2 linked regions of the Homo sapiens genome follow. The protein of the gene in region 1 interacts with the protein of each later gene in a pairwise test. Each region holds a gene or a part of one and is shown in the gene's direction. Other genes may lie near its edges.

What was found. Proteins that work in one complex are often made in the same cells at the same time.
Region 2: the proteins of ZNF148 (region 1) and CEP63 interact in binary tests that used the Homo sapiens proteins (3 or more experiments, as listed by UniProt).

Annotation. Positions count from the first base shown.
Region 1 is NC_000003.12:125,308,694-125,316,734, reverse strand, and holds part of ZNF148 (zinc finger protein 148), read left to right. Parts: intron 1-1,681; exon of another isoform or gene 1,682-1,798; intron 1,799-3,078; 5' UTR 3,079-3,094; coding exon 3,095-3,427; intron 3,428-5,237; exon of another isoform or gene 5,238-5,872; intron 5,873-8,041. UniProt on the Homo sapiens protein: Involved in transcriptional regulation. Represses the transcription of a number of genes including gastrin, stromelysin and enolase. Binds to the G-rich box in the enhancer region of these genes.
Region 2 is NC_000003.12:134,558,802-134,566,317, forward strand, and holds the end of CEP63 (centrosomal protein of 63 kDa), read left to right. Parts: intron 1-348; coding exon 349-628; intron 629-2,575; coding exon 2,576-2,734; 3' UTR 2,735-6,230; downstream 6,231-7,516. UniProt on the Homo sapiens protein: Required for normal spindle assembly.

The DNA of each region.
Region 1 (8,041 bases):
TATACGGAGCTCAAACAACTCTATAGGAAAAAAAATCTAGTAATTCAATCAAAAAATGGGCAAAAGATTTCAATAGACATTTCTCAAAAGAAGAGATATAAATGGCAGACAGGCATATGAAAAGGTGCTCAACATTGTTGATCATCAGAAAAATGGAGATCAAAACTGCAATGAGATGTCATCTCACTCCAGTTAAAATGGCTTATATCCAAAAGACAGGCAATTACCAATGCTGGTGAGGATGTGGAGAAAAGGGAACCCTTCTATGCTGTTGGTGGGAATGTAAATTAGTACAACCACTGTGGAGAAAAGTTTGGTGGTTCCTCAAAAAACTAAAAATTGAGCTAGCATACAATCTAGCAATCGCACTGCTGGGTATATTTCCCCTAAAAAGGAAATCAGTATATTAAAAGATAGTTGCACTCCTGTATTTGTTGCAGCACTGTTTACAATAGCTAAGACTTGGAAGCCACCTAAGTGTCTGTGAACAGATGAGTGGATAAAGAAAATGTACATATGCACAATGGAGTAGTATTCAGCCATAAAGAAAGAATGAGATCCAGTCATTTGCAACAACACGGGTGAAACTGGAGATCATTATGTTAAATGAAATAAGCCAGGCACAGAAAGACAAATGCATGTTCTCATTTATTTGTGGGATCTAAAAATCAAAACAGTTGAACTCATGGATATAGAGAGTAAAAGGGGATAGTTACTAGAGGCTGAGAAGGGGAAGGTGGGGATAGTTAATGGGCACACACAAAAAAATAGAAAAAATGAATAAGACCTACTATTTGATAGCACAATAGGATGACTATAGTCAATAACAACTTGATTGTGCATTTAAAAATAAAGAGTGTAATTGGGTTGTTTGTAGCTCAAAGGGTAAATTATTGAGGGGATGGATACCCCATTCTCCATGATTTGCTTATTTCACGTTGCGTGCTTGTATCAAAATATCTCATGTACCCCATAAATGTATATACTTATGTATATATTTACTCCCTCCATTTTTTTTTTTTTTTTTGAGATGGAGTCCTGCTCTGTCACCAGGTTGGAGTGCAGTGGCTCGATCTCGGCTCACTGCACCCTTCCCCTCCTGGGTTCAAATGATTGTCCTGCCTCAGCCTCCTGAGTAGCTGGGACTACAGGCATGCACCATCATGCCCAGCTAATTTTTTTGTATTTTTAGTAGAGACAGGGTTTCACCATGTTGGCCAGGATGGTCTCGATCTCCTGACCTGCTGATCTGCCCGCCTCGGCCTCCCAAAGTGTTGGGATGACAGACGTGAGCCACTGCACCCGGCCAATGTTTTATATATTTAAAACATAAAAATATAGTTATTTTATATATTTAATGGTTGTTTCTAAGTTTTCTTTAGTGATTTGTCTGATAGTGTTCCTGTCAGTTTATTGATCTCTTCTAATTTTTAAGGTATTTTAATATATTAAGGATATGGAGTTTTTGACTGATGTTACAAATACTTTTCACCAGTTGATTCTTAAGGATTTCCAAATAAATGGACAGAATAATGAAATTTTAGCATTAAGAGACTTGTTTCATTTAGTTTTAGTTTGTTTTCTAAGAAATGTGATAAATGAAATTTTTGAAGAGAGCAGCTATTTGGTGATGTATGTAACATCTTTGACCTTTATTTTTATTTGTTTATTTTTGAGACAGGGTCTTATTCTGTCACCTAGGTGGAGTGCAGTAGTACAGTCACAGCTCACTGCAGCCCCAACATCCTGGGCTCAAGCCATCCTCCTGCCTCAGCCTCCCAAGTAGCTGGGACCACAGGTGCGTGCCACCATGCCCAGCTCATTATTGTATTTTTATTTTGTAGAGATGGGGTTTTGCCTTGTTGCCCTAGCTGGTCTCAAACCCCTGGGCTCAAGCGATACGCCCGCCTCGGCCTCCTAGAGTGTTGGAATTACAGGCGTGAGCTACCATACCCAGCAATCTTTGACCTTTAGATTTTAACTTTACTACCTAAAGATTTTGAAAAGTGAAATCAGATGTTTTGTACAGATATACTGTATATATTCTAGGTTGATAATACCTGGTACCAGGGAAGAAAGATTAGCAAGTTATGAATTACACATTTGTGTATTTTGCTGTTTATAAGGTTTTTTTGAGCTGTTCATTTCAGTAAAGTTTTCTCTGTTAATGATAACCTTAGTAAAGGAAAGAGTATTTTGATTTCAGTAGTGTGTTGGAATTTAACTTAGGTATTTGACTGCTGAAAACTATGATCAAAGTTGGTCATTACTTAGGTGATTAATTTGGGAAAGAAGTGACTAAACTGAAATATACTTAACATTTTCGTTATGGTATTGACTACTGTAGTGATTTTCTGTGTCTACCTTTGTTTACATTTTTTATTTCATCAAGATAAATTCCAAAATGTAGAATTCCTTGTTCAAAGAATATGTACATTTTTATAGCTTTTGATACGTTTCATAGCATTTGATACCAAATGGCTTTTGAAAATAGTTGATCTAATACATACTTTTATTATCAGTAGATGAGTGTCTTTTTTTAATACTTCAACATTGGATGTATTTTTTAAGAGTCATTATCAGTTTGGTAGATGAAATATGATAGTGCTGTTTAATGGTAATTTCTTGGATTACTGCTGAGACTCTTTTTTATATGCTTAATGACTATTTCTAAATTTTTAAAAATGATTTGCTTGATGATGTTCTGTCAGTTTATTCCTTACTGAATTCATCTCTATTTTTAACACATTTCAATATATTATTAATATATTAAAGAATATGGATCCCTTGACTGATGTTACAAATACTTTTCCCTAATTTGTTTTTATGTCAGGCTTATTTTTCAATAATAAAGTAGTTAGGATTTGATGCCTTTATATGAAAATGAAAATTTGTGTTTTATTCTACCAGCCTTTGGAAACCGATATTGGTATTATAATTTTAAAATTGGAGGCAGTTCCAAAGTACATCAATAAAATCTTTGTATTTGAATGTTCAAATTCTTAATTTGAAAATTTAAAATGAAGTAGTCATATAAAACTAATTTACTATGTTTTGTTGCCAAACTTGGTTTTCTAGGCAGTTATACTTAAGCATGAACATTGACGACAAACTGGAAGGATTGTTTCTTAAATGTGGCGGCATAGACGAAATGCAGTCTTCCAGGACAATGGTTGTAATGGGTGGAGTGTCTGGCCAGTCTACTGTGTCTGGAGAGCTACAGGATTCAGTACTTCAAGATCGAAGTATGCCTCACCAGGAGATCCTTGCTGCAGATGAAGTGTTACAAGAAAGTGAAATGAGACAACAGGATATGATATCACATGATGAACTCATGGTCCATGAGGAGACAGTGAAAAATGATGAAGAGCAGATGGAAACACATGAAAGACTTCCTCAAGGACTACAGTATGCACTTAATGTCCCTGTAAGTAATTCCTTTATAAGATATTAAACTTAGAAACATAATTTTTTGTTACGTAATACTGCAAGTCATCGAAGAAATTTCAGAAAATGTTTCAGGGCTAAATAGTGTTCTTGAATAGATATACTAAAATATTGACATAAATCATATTTGAAAGGCAAAATTAAGTTCTTGTATTATATTATTTTAGAAGCTTATTTCTTTCAGGATAACAATATTTCTCAGGATTATTTTGGTATTAAATTTTAAATGCTTAATTTTAAAAGATATTTTATCTAACTTCTAGGTTTCTCCTTAAAGAGTAAAACATTTGAATCTTCAACGTAACTAGAAAAATATCACACATTCAAGGGTTTTTCCTACAAATTCTGTAATTCTTGCCTTCTTAAATTTTTCTAATATGCTCCTATTCTCTGTTCTCTTTGTATCCTCCGCTTGCTTGATCTGTTTATCTTTTTAAAGTATATCAGCCCTTTACTCTTTCCTATCTACCTCAGACGTCATTTAAGATGTTTCATAAGCACCCATATGTTTTTCCTTCTTCTACCTTTATTTTTACCCAATAATCAGTGAAACCACAACCATCATGTAAATTCTTGTCTCTTCTTTCTATGATATCAAACCTGGGTTCCTTTCAGTTCATCTAACATGTACTTTTTCTTTTGCTTTAGGACTTTAATATATCCTGCTTGAGATATTACCCTCAGTCATACTTCATACCTGTTTTATAACCTCTAGATAGTGCTCCATCATCATCAGCCTGTCACTTCTCTTGACTCTAGGTTGAGTCCCTGTGATAGGGACTTGTGATTTACTTGTACGATGCTTCTCTGATGGATTGTAGACTCCATAAGGACAGGAGTTTTGTCTTACTTTTCACTGTAGTCCAGGTGTTGGCACATGGTGTGAATGAGCGGATAACTACTTGTAGTTGTGCTCTGATACATACATTCACCAGCTTTACCTAGCCCATTGCAGTAACTTTTTCCTCTTTAGCCTGATGATGTAATGGATTACATTAGTTGATTTTTGAATATGGAAGCAACTTTCATACCTGGAATAAATCCTGCTTGTTTGTGGTATATAGTTCTTTTTAGATGTGGTTGGATTTGATTTGATCATATTTTGAGGATTTTTACATTTGTGTTCATGAGAAATATTAGTCTATAGTTTTCTTGATGTCTTTGTCTGTTTTTGGTATTAGGGTAATGCTGGTCTCATAGAATAAATTAGCAAGTATTCCCTCTGCTTATATCTTCTGGAAGAGATTGTAGAGAACTGATGTAATTTCTTCCTTAAATGTTTGGTAGAATTCACCAGTGAACTGCTTTGGGTCTGGTGCTTTCTGTTTTGGAAAGTTATTGTTGATTTGATTTCTCCTATAAATATAGGTCTCTTCAGATTATCTGATTCTTCTTGTGTGAGTTTTGACAGATTGTGTCTTCCAAGGAATTGGTCTATTTTGATAAAGTTGTCAAATTTGTGGGAACAAAGTTCATAGTATTGTTTTATTATCCTTTTAATGTCCAGGGGTTTATAGTGATGTCCTCTCTTTGATTTCTGATATTAGTAATTTGTGTTTTCTCTTTTTTTCTTTTTTTCTTGTCTTAAGACAGTAATTTAAAAAAATTACTGTCTTAACAATTCCCTTTTTTTTGGTGTATCATTTACTAAGTTAAATTATATAGGGTTTTTTGGGGTCTGTAATTGATGTACATTTGATTTTAAAAAGACACTGTCTTATATCAGGACAAAGCAGATTTACATACAACTATCAGCAGAAAAAATTTCTGTGTGATCTGAACAGAGGTACTCTTTTCTTTGATCATAAGAAAATGCAGTACTTTTAGAAGGTAAAGCTATTAAGATTACAGAAGTTTTACCAAAATGCTTTAAGCAAAAACTCTTTTAAGAAAAAGGTATGAGTTCTCATTTTCTATTCTTAGCATAAATTTTAATACTTTCTAATAGAACCTAACTCTTCTGAATGCCTTTCAGCATCATCCAAAGCTTGAACTTCTATTTCTGGATTAAAAATTCATTCACAAATGAGCTGTGCAATACGATCACTTTTTCTGACTTTAAACTTTTTTTTGCCAAAATTAAACAGTACAGCACCAACATTTCCTCAGTAATCTTCATCTATCAATAAAGTGTTTTGCAGCTAATCCAAACCATGGAGCTACTCTTCTGTAACATCCAGAAGGAAGAGCTATCTGAATGTCCATTTTCCCTAGAGCTTTCTCCATAGGTGGTATTGTATCATCATAGGCACCGTTGAGGTCATAGCCTGTGGCCTGTGTGGATCCCTGAGTCAGGGTTGTGGCCTGCTCAGAGAATGGGGCAAAACGGAGCTGCATGCTGCCTTCCTCTGCAAACCAGCCTGTTTGCTGGGGGTAACGGTGGGTGTCTCTTCAGAGCAGGGCATGGCAGAGTGAAAATGCGAGCAGAGGAGAGAGCAACAATTTTTAAGTGTCCATTTTAGTAGTGCAAACTATATTGACATTGTTGTACAACAGATCTCTAGAACTTTTTCATCTTGCAAAACTGAAACTGAAACTCATGTTCGAACAACTCTGCATTTCCCCCTGCCCAGTGGTAGAGGCTTGCTTATTTTATTGATATTTTCAAAGAAACAGCTTTTGATTTTCTTGATTTTTTTCCCTCTATTTCCTATTTTCAGTTTCATTTATTTCTGCTCTAATTTTTATAATTTTTTTCTGCTTGTTTCGGATTTAATTTGCTCTTCTTTTTCTACTTTCCTAAAGTGGAAGCGTATTCATTTTAGATTTTTTGTTTCTAATATATGCATTCATACTATAAATTTTCCTCTAAGCACTGCATTAGCTACATTGCATAGATTTTGATAGTTGTATTTTTATTTTCATTTAGTTCAATATATTTTAAAATTTCTGTTAAGATTTCTTCTTTGGACTGGGTGTGGTGCCTCACGCCTATAATCTCAGCACTTTGGGAGGCTAAAGTGGCGGATTACTTGAGCTCAGGAGTTTGAGACTAGCTTGGGCAACATGACAAAACCCCATCTCTACTAAAAATACAAAAATTAGCCGGGCATGGTGGCATGCACCTGTAATCCCAGCTATGTGGGAGGCTGAGGCATAAGAATCACTTGAACTCCAGAGGCAGAGGTTGCAGTGAGCCAAGATTGTGCCACTGCACTCCAGCCTGGGTGACAGAGTGAAACTCTGTCTTTAAAAAAAAAAAAAAAAAAAAAAATTCTTTGAACCATTATTGTTTAGAAGTGTGTTGTTTAATATCCAAGTATTTTGAGATATTTTCTAGCTACCATTCTGTTATTAGTTGTAGTTTAATTCTGTTGTGGTCTTAGAGCAGACGCCATATGATTGCTATTCTCTTAAGTTTGTTAGATTGTATTTTATGGCCCAGAATGTTGTCCACCTTGGTGAAATGTTACGTGCGAGCTTGAAAAGAATGTGCATTCTGTTTTTGTTGGATGAGGTAGTCTATAGATTGCAATAGACTGGCATTTTTATTGGACTGACAGTAGCCTGCGCCTTCTCCAGTGTATCTTTCAGATAGTTTCTACAGTGATCTTTCCAAACGAGATGTATACATGTCATTCCCTTACTGAAACTTCCCCAGTGGTTCCTCATTACTAAACAGCTAAAATGTACTTTTTTGCATGGGCGGAAATAGCCGTCATAATCCCGTCCCTTATCCAACTTTTTTTTTTAACTGTAGTTCAGCCCCTTTCGCCACCATTTTATGCTTTAAGCATATCAAATTAATTTAGTTGCCTAGGTCCACTATGGGTTTTTTCTGTTACTTTTGTTCATGTCGTATATGCCTATAATATTATTTATTTGGCAATTTACTGTTACTCATGTTTCACCTTAAAAGATGTCTCTTTCTTGTGATTTTTCATTATGGTAACTATAATAACTTTGCATTTCTTTGCTTGCAAGACTGTCTTGTCATTATATTTTAAGGTATTTTTTTCTGTATCCTGCCTTTAAATTTTGTGTTCTCAATACCTGGGTTATAGTAGGCAATCAGATTTTTTTTGAGTGAAAATATACATTCTGTTTTTAATTGAGGAAAAGTTTAAAGTGAAATGTTCAGATTCTGAGTTTGTAGTTCAGAGTTTTGACAACTGCATAAACTTGTATAATCCATAATCCATCAAGATACCAAATGTTTTAGTAATCCTGGGAAGTTTTTTTGTAATTCTTCCCAGTCAATTCCTCCACAACAGTTGTTCTGATATTTTTTCTTCATAGATTGTCATTGTCCTTGATGAGAACCTCATGTAAATGGAGTTACATGTAACTCTTGTGTCTGGCTGCTTTTGCACAACATGTTTTGGGATTCATCCATGTTGGTTGAATGTATCAACAGTTCATTCTTTTTCCCTATTGATTAATGTTTAGTCATTTTAATTAATATCAAAATTTGTTTATTCATCCTCCTTTTTGTGGTTACTTGTGTTGTCTCTTGCTTTCAATTACTATGAATAAAGTGGTTAGGAAAATTGTTGTACAAGTCTTTTTTCATTTCTCTTGGTACGTGTTTGTGTAAGTCTTATTTCTTGTGGGTTTTCATTGATGGACCTAGTGTCTGTCTTTAAATCAGTGT
Region 2 (7,516 bases), 9.2 Mb from region 1:
ACCCTCACCTCCACTCCTACACCCACCCAATCCCCTAGTTAGGTTAGGTGCCTTCTTATGTGCACAGCACTTCTCCTGTCCCAGCACTAACCACACTAGATTACTCTGGCAGCTTGTTTGTCTTTCTTGCTATACCATAAGTGTGTGAGGGCAGGGACTTGGTAGTTGGAATTGGATATTTGGGGCCTGAATGAATGAAAGAAATCTCTTTCTGATCTGAGTAGGTTGCTCATTTTGTAAATTGTAGCCTTATTAGTTAGGCTATTAAGCAAATTTCCTACATTTCTGTTGGAAAGAGAAAAGTTGCTACAATTTTTTATTTGTTTTGTTTTCTAATCTACCATCCAGGCCAACCCATGGCCAGCACAGACATGATGGAATAAAGACTGAGCACTACAAAACAGATCTTCATTCTCCAAGAGGACAAGCGTCGGATAGTATAAACCCCATGTCTAGGGTGCTAAGCCCCCTGAGTCCTCAAATCAGCCCTTGCAGCTCCACCAGGTCTTTGACTTCCTACTCTCTATGTAAAACTCATTCTTTGCCTTCAGCGCTAGATACAAATGAAGCCAATTTTTCTGACACTATGTCTGAGAGTATGAATGACCAAGAAGAGTTTATATCTTCGGTATGGAAACTTTCTGATCTTAGTAATTTGTTAGTTTTTTAAGTTTGCTTTGATTTTTTATTTTAAGGGTGAAGAAGGTGATTTTTTTTTCCTTACTGATTCTTTTATCATAAGTACTCTTCATTATTCTTAGGTATCCCTGTCATACAGTTTTTGCTTGTGAAGACACTTTCGGCCAAGACTACTTTTCAAAATGTTCTGAAATATGTTATACGTATTCATTTGTCTTTAACCCTTATTGGAAATTCCCTTCTTGCCCTTTTCAGTGATGCTCAATTTTCTTCTGGAATGGTTAGTTCAAGAACTGTCTCTGGATGCCAAGATAGTCCTGAGGCACAGGCAGTGAAGGAGGAAAAGAGGAACTGCTGGAAAGGAGAAAGGGAGTGTGGAGGGGGAGGAAGGCTGTGCCTCTGATGTGTGCAGAGCATGGCTTGGGGGTCACAGATGGTGGCCCTCAGGGCAGAATGTGCCTTGGACACCATGCCGGTCCCTTGCTCCTTCCATTGCTGGGCAGGCTGCACCATCTTTTTGCCTTCTGCACCAAAGCACTTGCCATGGGCCCTTCATTTCCTGTCACCAGCTGTGGCCATATAGATGTGAAAGTGCAGTATTTCTGACTTATTAATGTGCTACCAAGTCCATGGAAAGGTTTTCTTTTATTTTTCAAAATAAGTCCTCACTTCACTTTCTTCCTAAGTTTAGCAGCAAAATTTTTTTGGCACCAGAACTTTCCCTGGCCTGAACTGATGTGTTAGTATGTATAGACTTTCTCTATTCCACTTAGTGTGAGTATCCATGTGTTTTGCTTCAGAAATATCAGTGTGTTTGGTGATGGGATGTTCCCTCAGACTCCACTGGGGTAATACAGTTGATCCTCATTATTCACAGATTTTGTATTTGTGAATTTGTCTACTCCCTAAACTTTATCTGTAACTCCCAAATCAGTATGCGCAGCACTTCCACAGTAATTCGTGGACATATGCAGAGTGACAAAAAATTTGAGTGACCGACTTGCACAATCCCAGCCAAGGTCGAAGTAGGCAGCACTCTGCCTTGTTGCCCCTGCTTATGCGGAGGTGACCATAGGGTGGAGATGGACGGGACAGCGCAGTGTAGGGAAAGAAGCTCAGCTCCATGCCAGCTGGATAGAGTCTGAATCCCAGCTTCAGCACCAGTTAGTGGGGCAGCCTCAGGAGAGTTACCACTTCTGAACCTCATGTCTCTCATGTGAAATAAAAAATACAGAATCTACCAGAATGATTTGTTCTAGGATTTAGGATTATGCTCTCTGTGTGGGGTATGTGTGTATGTGTGTGTGTGTGTATTTGTTGTATGTGTGTATTTTCCCTGGGCCAAAAATTCTGTGTTTGCTAATTCAGTGTTTTGGGTGACTTTATAGAACACAACTACTGCTATTGTGAATGAGTATTGACTGCATATGGCATATGTTCTATGTTACCTTTCTAAAATCAGAATTCTGAAATATCACTAGCCTCAAGGGTTTCAGATAAGGGACTGTGGACTGAAAATTTGGAGGAGAAAAAATAATTGATTTTAGCTGGCATCTAATTTATTTTTGTTAAATTTTTGTGCTTTAAAATAAAAGTGACATACTTAGGTTTTTAAAGTGAGTTTGAAATAATAGGCATTAACTATGGAAGCATATATAAGTCTAAATTGAAACATTCTTCAGACCAATAACTAATATATGATACTTTACATTGTTACAATTTGGGTCAGAAACGGAGAGATCTGTGTTAATTTTTGCAGAACTTACTGATTTTTGTTCTTTTATTGCTCTTGTCATTAGGATGAAAACCAAAAAAGTATCTTCAGAGGAAAAAAATCACCTTTTAATATTGCTAGTTAGAAAATGTCATGAACAGTGTATCTTAGAAATATAATATTCTACTTATTTACACATGTCAAAATTTGTGTCTCTTCCAGTGTTCCTTGCCTGTATCTCCCCTTGGTTCAATAGCTACCAGATTTTTGGAAGAGGAGGAACTGAGGTCTCATCACATTCTAGAGCGCTTGGATGCCCATATTGAAGAACTAAAAAGAGAGAGTGAAAAGACAGTGAGACAATTCACAGCCTTAAAGTAGCCTCTTAAAAAAATCACTATCTTGGAAATAAAAATAAACACCAAAGAGTTACTGTCATCTGAAGTAGCAGCTCTTTAAAAACATGAAGAGATAAAATTATAAAAATGATACATCTAAAGCAGTGGTGAAGAAAGCTGAAAAACTGATACTTTTGATAGGCATTTTCTCTGCACTGGTTTGTTTAAAGGACTTCTTCCAGCAATAAGTTGAAAGAATAAACCACTTTGCTAGACTTTTTTCTCATACGAATATTTATTATCATAAAGTGATACTTACCTTGCTGACTTAAATGTGAATAGCTATGTACTAATTGAAATAAGGATTTTATGATACATGTTGAAAATAAAGTAACTGCAGGAACTTTCTTTAGGGGAAATGTGTAGAAGCATGGATTTAGGGGTCAAACATACCTGGATCGATAGACTGGTTTTGCCACTTACCAGCCAACGGGGCTTGTTATTTACTGGGCTGGTAGCCCCTCCTAGCCAAGGGGCTGGTAGTGTGTAAAGTCAGGCTGGTAGTGAATAAGGGGGGGGTGTGCTAAAGAACCTTATCAAGCAGTCCTCTCTTGCTCAACACTCATGCAGAGGAGAGAGGCAGGGAGGGCAAGGGACTGGCTGTCATGCACGGTGCCCATGGAATATCCATTGGAAATAAATGTTCATCGTCTGCACTGCTGAGGACAAGTTTAGATGGGAGACAAAGATCTGGATGTTGATGTGCCGCAGGCATTTGAAACGATGGGAGTTGATAAGATCCACCAGGGAGGCTGTGGAGAGAGAGAGGAGCAGGAGGCTGGGTTTGGGGCCCTGAAAGATGCCAGCATCTGAGGATCACAGGAAATAGATCTAGCAAAGGAACTAGAATGTGCAGTTACAGATGAGAAAGGTCAGTGTAGTGTACTTGCCAGCTCAAGGGTGTGGCCTCTGTGAACCCTCTTTCTGTAGTGGATCTTTCCCATCAGCGTAAAACATCCTGTTATTTCCCCTTTTTAAATAAAACCTCAGTTTTTTTTAATGCCTCTCTTTTACTGCTCTGTATGTTTGCTTCCCTTCACCCAAACACTTCTGGAAAGAGTTGTCTGCAGTGACTCTTTCCAGTTCCTCACCCCGCCCCACCGTAGTTCTCTTCCTAACCCTCTCCAACACCACTTCCATCCCCAGACTGCTTTCTTGCTCTTGAGTTCACCAGTGACCTAATCAGTGTCTGAGCATCATTCAGCACAGTTGGACTCTCTCTTGGCTTCTGTGACCTGGAACTTCTGGTTTCCTCTCTACCTCATCCTCCACTCCATCTCATGGCTTTTCCTCTTCTAACCTCTAAGTCAGAGGGCCCCCTAGAGCTCTGTCATGGGTTTTCTCCCTCAGCATTCTCTTCCCTAGAAGTTTCCATTCCATTCTCAAGCTCTTAATACCACCTATAGGCCAGTGACCCTTACATTTATTACTAATCTTGACCTCTCCCCAGAGCTGCTGTCTTAGATACCTAGCTGCTTATGCGATGTCTTCACTTGGATATCTGACAAACATCTTGTTTCCAAGAGAGAACTCTTTATTCTCCCTCTTGCTAAGATTCCATATCAGGACATAGCATTATGTTTGCCAGTTCCTAGGAGTTACTTATAATTCCTTCCTTACCCACATCCGCATATCCAGTCATTTGGGAGGTCCTGTCATTTCTTCCCCCAGAATCTTATCTCAGACCCAACCGTTTCCCTCCTGCACTTCTACCACCTGATCCAGACTACTTCTCTCTCACCCTGATTCTGGCAGTAGCCTCCTAACTGATAGTACTCACACCAGTAATTCAGGGAGCTTCTGGAGTTATCCTTTAGAAATGTAAATGAAACAGTGTCACCACTGCTTCCCTTCAGACTCTTCCAAGGCTTCTCTTTTTTTTTTTATTGAGACAGAGTCTCACTCTGTCGCCCAAGCTGCAGTACAGTGGCAGGATCTCGGCTCTCTGCAACCTCCACCTCCCGGGCTCAAGTGATTCTCCTGCCTTAGCTTCCCGAGTAGCTGGGATTACAGGCGCATGCCACCAGGCCCAGCTAATTTTTGTATTTTTAGTAGGAACAGGGTTTCACCATGTTGGTCAGGCTGATCTCGAACTCCTGACCTCAAGTGATCCACCCGCCTGAGCTTCCCAAAGTGCTGGGTTATAAGCGTGAGCCACTGCACCCAGCCCCAAGGCTTCTTACTGCACTCAGAATAAAATCCAAATGAATTAGTATAGCCTACAGAGTGTCAATAATCTGGGCCTAATCACCCATTGCATCATCCTTTACTGTGCTCCACCCATGCTGGCGTCCTTTCTGTTTATTGAGTGCAGCAAGCTTTAACCTGTTCGGGTCTTTCATTTGCAGTTTACCCTGAATATTCCCTTTCTCTTACCTCACCTTTGATTGGCGTTTTCCCCCTTGCAGACCTGCACTCTGGCATCCTCTCCTGAGCAAGCCTTCTTTGATTGCTGCCTCCCAAACCTGTTTCTCCCCATTTCTCTAGCTCATTGGCCTGTGTTACTTGCTTCATAGTGCTCACTACTATCTGAAATCATTTCATTACTTGATTTATGTTTGTACTGTCTATTTCTGTCTTTAGAATTAAAACTCCTTGAGGGCAAGGACTTTGCTTCTCTGGTTCATGGTGGGATCCTCATCACCCAGCACAAGCCCAACACTTAGGAGAGGCTCAGCTAGTTTGAACCAATGGAAAATGCCATTCCTGAGGTGCACCACATCGTTTCTTTTGTGTTGGTGTGCATGCTGTCCTTCAGTTTGTCTCCTCTTCCCACACCCTGTCATGTGCTCCTAAAACTCCCCCTTTACTTGGCTACTTTATCTGGCTTGGCAAAGCTTTCCCATATCCCCTGACCCATGTCAGGGAACGTTTCTCCTCATTGCTGTCATGGCACCCTGTGTGTGGCTCTGACCAGACTTTGCTATCCGCTTTGATTTCTGTCTTTCAGGGGCTAAGTCCTGCCTACATCCTCAGTCAGCATGCTGCCTAACACATAACAGATCCTAAGCAAATATTGGGTGGATGAAAATCACTACCATTCAAGGCTTCATTGTATTTATCAGTAAAACTGAAATAATATCTAATGGGGTCGAGAAGATTTACTGAAAATATATATTTGAAAGGGCTTTGCAGTTTTAAGTACTGTACCTATGTGCATTGCTGTTACATTCAGGAGATTTCTGAGTTTTAGACAGTCCCAAGCTTCAGCTTAAAATCTGTAGACTGCAGCCCGTTTCTGAAACGTTTGTACTACGTGTTGACTAGGAGGAACAATGACAGACTCTGTAGTCACCGGAAATACTTAAGGAATCATGAGGTACTATGTATTTCCTTAAATTATACTGTTTTTTAAAGCTGAAGTATCTAATAGTTAATGGGTTGTCCAAATTTGTCAGAACATTTGACTGTAATTTAATGTCTCACCATTTTTCAAAAAGATATATTAATACCAAATATTAAAATGTGTCAAGACTAAATCTGAGTTAGTGTCTTAACACACATTTTCCAAAATCTGTCCGTGATCAGGGTACCCAAATGAGATGAAAAGATTAGGGATTTGTAGTCTACATCTGGTGTTTACAGATAATGTTTTATTGGGCAAGTCATCTCATTCTTCTTGTCCTGGATTCCCATGAATTTTCATCTGGATTCCTACGCAGATTTTAGCTGAAGAGGGCAAAGTTGACTTCCCACTGTGGGCTGGACATTACCTTCCCTTGCAGACTCATTTGATCTCAACAAGTGTAGAAAAAATACTACAACACTCTGTTTCTGTGACATCTGCTTAAACCCAAACAATTCTTACCTTCTCTCTCTTACATACACATAACACCTGGTAAACTGTGGGTGATGATTTTCTGTTTGCAAAACACTCGAGTCCAGTACCTAAAAGTTGCAGATAAGAAAGATAATTATAAAATAAGCTCTATGGCATGAGAACATACGTTAAGCAAACAGTTGTCATGAACAGCACTGAAATGTAGAAAAAGTTAGAAATGTGTCAGCTTGTCCCAAAACAGTTTGAAATAGTATAAATGCATCAAAAAGTAACAAACAGAATCGGGGCAGAGGGAAAATGAGGGCTGTAAACATTGATTCACTAATGAATCTAGTTGTCCAGTCCAGTTGCTAGAGGAAGGCAGCCAAGTTACCTCTGAGCTTCAGAGGGGGAAAAGCAGAGGAGAAAACATTTACCTAAAAGTTTTATGGTGCCCATAAGATAAAAAAAAAAAAAAATCATAGACTTAAGAAAAGCACAGATTTTTTTTGTGTGTTTGAATAAGCGTTTTGTAAAGTATGTGAGTATCCAGAAGAGAAGTCCAACATTTTCATAACTGGTAATAATAATCTGCACAGCTCCCCCCACAGTATGCTTCACTGTGGGTTGATGGCATAAGGCTGACATCCAAATTCAGAGGAAACTGTTCTGAGAGGGCCACAAACATGATTGCGTAAAGCTCTCATGGCCTGAAAAGGGAAAATTTAGAGGGATGATAGACTGCTTTAAACCAATCTTTTGTAAAAGCTATTTCTCCGCAGTGCAATTTTGATAATTCAGACATACAATTCACATCTTTTTTTTTTTCCCTCTCTGTGAGGAACTAGAATTTGGGAATTTTATGTTGCCCATTAAGACCAGGTTCAATTATTTGACAATCATCCAGTCAGAAGAACTTTTGCACTCCTCTTACAAAAAGAACGTAAGGCAGTAGTTGATAGGGGAAGGTCTAAAACTCCTTGATATTAAATGCAAAACATTTAT